Regions from separate parts of the Homo sapiens genome. Here region 1 is linked to region 2. A link means that fine-mapping ties the variant in region 2 to the plasma level of a protein whose gene starts in the linked region. Region 2 holds a variant in brackets. A gene starts in the other region. All regions are shown on their forward strands. Region 1 holds the start of MCAM (melanoma cell adhesion molecule). Region 2 holds the start of LOC124901377 (a long non-coding RNA gene).

The links. A credible set is the group of variants that fine-mapping cannot tell apart. PIP is the chance, under the fine-mapping model, that this variant and not a neighbour inherited with it causes the effect. Protein levels are from antibody-based Olink assays in UK Biobank. Linkage for the fine-mapping came from a reference panel and not from the study's own genotypes, which makes the PIPs less certain.
Region 1: it holds the start of MCAM, and the variant in region 2 is the best candidate, but not a certain one, in a credible set for the plasma level of the MCAM protein (UK Biobank, PIP 0.61).

What each region holds. Positions count from the first base shown.
Region 1 is chr11:119,315,338-119,318,242 of GRCh38, forward strand. It overlaps MCAM (melanoma cell adhesion molecule), which reads right to left and starts at 1,793. Exons shown (of 16, transcript NM_006500.3): 1 at 1,698-1,793. The coding sequence starts at 1,764. RefSeq lists an enhancer at 1-479 and a silencer at 2,072-2,131.
Region 2 is chr6:111,196,502-111,199,406 of GRCh38, forward strand. All of the region lies in intron 3 of SLC16A10 (solute carrier family 16 member 10), which reads left to right. LOC124901377 (a long non-coding RNA gene) reads right to left here and starts at 1,857. Exons shown (of 2, transcript XR_007059707.1): 1 at 1,661-1,857. The variant G/A (reference allele first, on the strand shown) is at 1,595.

The DNA.
Region 1 (2,905 bases), not on the chromosome of region 2:
TGCAGCTGTTTTTCCTGCCACTCAGAGGGTCTGCAGAGGGCCCTGTCCTCTGAACGCTCTACCCCCACCCCGACCCGCGCCCCACCTGGGCCAGCCCTCTCCCCGTCCAGGAGATCCCAGGTCCTTGGAGCCAAGCAGAGATTGAGCAGAGACTGAGCACCGAACAGCTCCAGCTGAGGCTGGTAGAGGGGCAGAAAGGGGCAACCTAGGCTCGGGGCCAAGAGGAAGGCCCCTTTCCTTCCAGGCCCCCTCCTCTCCGGGTGAGCTCAGAGTGTGGGAATGCAAAGCATGTGCCAGGCTGGGGCACACAGGCCCTTTTGTGTCACCACCGCCAGGGGAAGACACCACTGCTCTATCCTCTGCCCTCCAAAATCCCTGCCCTCACTCCCCAGCGGGCTAACTCTGGCGGAAGTTCCGGTCTCATGCTCCCTCAGCAGCACCTCCATGAACACTCCGCACACACCCGCGGACCCCACCCTAGGTAGCTGGTAAGGATGGAGAGGTCAGAGTCTCCCCCAGGGGTCAGGGCAAGGGCCAGGCAGTGGGCAGGAGTGACGTCAGTGGTGCCAGCGTGCTGCCAGCCCTGTGAGGAGGTGATGTCACTCGACACCATCTGCCTGGGCTCTGGGATGCCTGGGTTGTTACCTTGGCTCTCGGACAAGGAGGGCAGGTGGAAGGTGGGGTCTCCAACCCAGAGCCTCAGACCCCTGACTCCTCCCAGAGCTAGAAGAGCAGGGCAGGGTGGAGCTGGACCGGCTGCAACTGTGGAGCCCGATTTAGCCCTTTCCCCAGAAATAAAGTCAGCCTGGGAGGCAGTAGCCTGGAATACCCCAGGGACATGGTTGGCACTGGGCATGAGGCCAGCGAGCTGGGTATTGCCTAGCCCTCCCCTTCCCCAGCCGGACAGCGGCTGGGACGGCGGAATGGGAGCCAAGAGAAACACGCGACACCGCTGCGGGCCATACAAGGGCAGCGTGGACCCGAGAGCGCCCTGCTACCAGGCGGATCCGGAGAAACGCTCCGAGGTGCCCGGGCGCACTTCCCACCTGAATGTGGTCCCCAAAATAAGCCAGCGGGCGCTTCCAGTATGGGAATCCTCCATCCCTCATCTCTGTCCCCTATGATCCCATCACTCGGGGAGGCGCGAGGCGACCCACACCGCCCCGCAACCCCTGCCAACGCCCAGCTCGGGCGGGAGCCGCCGAACCTCCCGCTCTCGCTCACCTCCAGCCTGGCGTGATGCCCAGGCAGAAGGGGGAAGGGGTGGGTCGGCGCACCCCCTCCAGCGAAGGAAGCTGCCTTTTCCAGCAACAGGCGGGCGCGGAATTCAGGCTTTGAGGATGCGCCCCAGCTGCGCCTCCTGCCCGGCTTCAATTGCGGGCCCCCAGAGTGAGCACCTCAGGGACCACCCACCCCCCAGCACCCCGAAAGGCTGAGCTCCACCCCTTCTCGTTCCCAGAAGCAGCCTCCTCCCCGCCTTCCGAGTGCTGCTCCCGGGATACTCTAGAATCCCGGCTGCAAACTGGCTGCAAAGAAGAGTTGCTCGCGCGCAAGGCGCCCGGGGATCGGGGACCCAGGGAGGAGGCTCGTCCTCCCAGACGCAACGCCCCGACCCCGCCGCGCCGCTGGCTCTGCTCCCTGGCACGCTCCACCGCAGACCCCTAGCCGGGGCGCGGCCCCCCTGCGAGCGAACTCACCCGCGACGCGAGGACAGCAGCAGCAGGCGGCGAGCAAGAAGGCGCAGACCAGCCTGGGAAGCCCCATGCTTCCCGGCCGGAGGGCGAGAGCCAAGTGAGCAGCTCGAGGCTGCCGGGGGCTGACGTCAGGGGGGCGGGGGAGGGGGCCCGGAGCGCCCGGGCCCGCCCCGCCCCGCGCAGCCCCCAGCCCCCGCCCCGCGCGCCGCAGCCCTAGGGGGCGGGCCCCGGCGCCGCCAGCCCGGGAGCTGCGCCTAGGAGCGCTGCCGGAGGTAGGCCAGAGCCGGACTCCCAGGCTCCTGGCTTGGGAAGGCTGAGGGGGTAGTGACAGGTGTCTCGGGGTCTGACTGGCCGAGGTGGCAGCGAGGAGAAGCTGTCCCGGATGCCCGGAGTCGCCCCGGGTCGAAGCCAGCCAGGCTCACCGCTGCTCAGCCCCTGCCAGCCAATGTAGCCCCTAGGGGACCTCCTGGGGGAGGAGCAGTAGCGGACCTGGTCCTCGGTGTCCCCAAGGGGCCTCCCACTTGGGCTCCCCTCCCTTGCCACAGAGAATTCAGGCCGGCCTCTATCGCTTCCCAGAACGATTGCACCACTGCCGCTGCCGCCGGCCTGACACTGCCTCAGCCTCAGTGCTGGCAGCTTTGGGAGAAGAACCCTGCGCCAGTCCCACAGACCCAGAAGTACCTGTATGGGGAGTGCAGACGATGCCTTCTGGGCTGTCCCTTCAAACGCAAGCTCCTGCAAGTCTAGCCTTTGACCAGAGAAAGGAAGGAGGGGGCTGAATTCGCAGGCCCAAGGTGTTCACACTTGTCCAGACCTGGGCCTTGAGAATCATGTTTCTTCCCTCTTCACTCTGGAGCCTACCCTGGAACTCAGTTTCCCCTCACCTAAGAGAAAGAAACAGGGAGAAGAAAGAGTTAATGGGCGAGGGTCCCCAGCCTGACCCTGCAAACCTGTTGCTGTTCCTGATGATTGAAAGGATCCCGGCAGCGCTGATCTTCCCCCACCCCATGTCTTCCCCAGCCCTATTGATTGTGGGTCCATAGCTGAGGGAAGAATCAAATCAGACCTGCTTGGGTGGGGAGCTCTGCAGCTCCCCTTCTCCCAAAACGCCGGCTTCTCCCTGGGTCTTCTGGCCTCTTGAACTAAGGCTCTAGGGAGGGGGAGGTGCTCTTGCCTCACTCTGACCCCAGCAGCCTGGCCTCAGAAAAGGG
Region 2 (2,905 bases):
GAACACAGATTAAAAACAAAATACAGGCTGGGCTCACTGGCTTATGCCTGTAATCCCAGAACTTTGAGAGGCCAAGGTGGGAGGATTGCTTGTGCTCAGGAGTTTTAGATCAGCCTGGGTAACATGGCAAGACCACATCTCTACAAACAACAACAACAGGAGACTATACTTTCAGGGACCATTTCTGGGGATCATAGTTTGTTACTAGAGAAGTTTCTCTGTGTAGAGCATTGAAATATAAAAATGCAGAATAATCATTTACATAGCATTTACATTGTATTGGTTATTATAAGTAATCTAGAGATTAATTAAAGTATACAGGAGGATATACATAGGTTACATGCAAATACTACACCATTTTGTATAGGGGACTTGATCATCCATAGATACGGGTATCTGAGGAGGTGTTGGGTTCAGTTCTCCACGGATACCAAGAGACTAATGTTAATTTCATTTCCCCAACCTCCACACCAGAACTCTGAAATAAGAATAAGAAAAGGAGCAGTTGGGATAGACAATATCAGAAGTATGTGGAAATGATAACAGTGGAAGGAAAGCTGATCTAGGCCTACTCAACAAATTTTAATCTTCATTCCGGTAAAAACAAATTAGATTTATGGGTGCAAATTTGAGCCAGCAATTAGATGGCTCTTAGGATTAATAAAAAAAGACTGAACATCATGCCTTCCAAAGACTGAGGGAAAGAGATAGATAGGAGACTTTGGCAAAGTAGCACTTTAGCCAACATCATTAGCCTAAATCTTAGTGAAGAGAGGTTAGAAGAAAGGTAGAATTTTCATGGAAGGATCCATTTTTCTTCACTTCAGAATTAAGGGAAAAATTAGGAAGCTGAATAAGAACTAATGGCCTAATTTCTTTGTTTCTTTCAAAAATCAAATCTTTAAGTTAAAATTTCAATAACCAACAGAAGAAGGTAGAACCAATTTTGTGAATTTACAAAATACTTGCTTATTGACACTATTGCCAAGGTCATTAAATAAGTTATCAAGTTACCTCAGATCCCAGTGATTTAAATAATGCTTTCTGAATGTATCCTTTTCTGTTTTAAGAAGAAGCTGTATTAGGTTCTTGTGTTCCTATAAAGAAATACCTGAGGCCGGATGATTTATAAAGAAAAGAGGTTTAATTGGCTCACGATTCTGCAGGCTGTATAGGAAGCATGGCCCCAGCATCTGCTCAGTTTTCTGGTGAGGTCTCGGGGAGCTTTTACTCATGGCGAAAGCAGAGTGGAAGCAGCAGGTCACTTGATGAAATTGAGAGCAAGAGTATGGGTGGGGAGCTGCCACACTCTTAACCCAATCTCTAGTGAACACAAGCAATAACTCACTTATCACCAAGGGAATGGTGCTAAGCCACTTGTGATGGATCCACCTCCAAAATCCAGTCACCTCCCACCAGGTCCCACCTCCAACATTGGGAATCACATTTCAACATGAGATATGGAAGGGACAAACATTCAAACCATATCAGAAGCCTATCTTAGGCTGGGCACGGTGGCTCACGCCTGTAATCGCAGCACTTTGAGAGGCCGAGGCAGGCAGATCATTTGAGGTCAGGAGTTTGAGACCAGCAC[G/A]GGCAACATGGTGAAACCCCATCTCTACTAAAAATACAAAAACTAGCTGGGCATGGTGGCACACACCTGTAATCTCAGCTACTCGGGAGGCTGAGGCAGGAAGCTCTCTTGAACCCGTGGGCAGAGGTTGCAGTGAACTGAGATTCTGCCACTGCACTCCAGTCTGGGCAACCGAGTGAGGCTCTGTCTAAAAAAAAGAGAAGCCTATATTAAACTTATAAAATTTAATATCATTTCAACTAGCCTTTTGTTGGGTGCATTTGTTCACTTTGGACTATTTTTCCAAATTCATGTACAGTCGTGCATCTCTTAACAATGAGGATATGTTCTGAGAAATGCATCCTTAGGCAATGTCATTGTTGTGCAAACATCATAGAGTGTACTTAGACAACCCTACATGGTGTAGTCACTACATACCTAGGCTATATGGCATAGGTAGAGCCTATTGCTCCTAGGCTACAAACCTGTACAGCATGTTACTGCACTGAATGCTGTAGGCAGTTGTAACACATGGTATTTGTGTATCTAAACATGGAAAAGGTACAGTGAAAGTACAGGATTATAATCTTATGGAATCGCTGTTATATATGTGGCTCATCTTTGACCAGAAATGTTATTATGTAGCACATGACTGTAATTCCACTATTGATTAGAGACTCCATAACCCACACCTACCTGTTCATTTGCATGCACATTTAGCCGATAGGTGACTTTATCACTAGATCAGTCCAAGAATAAGTTTAAAGAGCATGTCCCCTTTTCTTGTTTTTTAATAAATGTAAAACATGGAAGTACATGATACCTCAAAGGAGCATGAATCACAAACAGGAGTCCACATTTACAGAGCCTTTGCAACCACTTTTATATCTTCAAAGTGCTCTACCAAAGTATCGGAGTCAGTCAGTCATGCAGGTAGGCTGCCAACCATGGCTGAGCCCTCAGGAGCTGTCTTGATGACCAGCATAGACACGGTCTGTTGTGTTCATTCAAACTTGCCAGGAACCAAGGATCTGAGAATGGTAAGTCTGGTGTGCCAAGAATGAAACTCCAAGAAAGAAACTTCAGAATCAAATTTAAATTTAGGCTGGGTGTGGGGGCTCATGCCAGTAGTCCCAGCGCTTTGGGAGGCTGAGGTGGGCAGATCACCTGAGGTCAGGAGTTTGAGACCAGCCTGGGCAACATGGTGAAACTCTGTCTCTGCTAAAAACACAAAATTAGCTGGGCATGGTGGTGGACACCTGTAATCCCAGCTACTTGGGAGGCTGACGCAGGAGAATTGCTTGAATCCGGGAGGTGGAGGTGGCAGTGAGC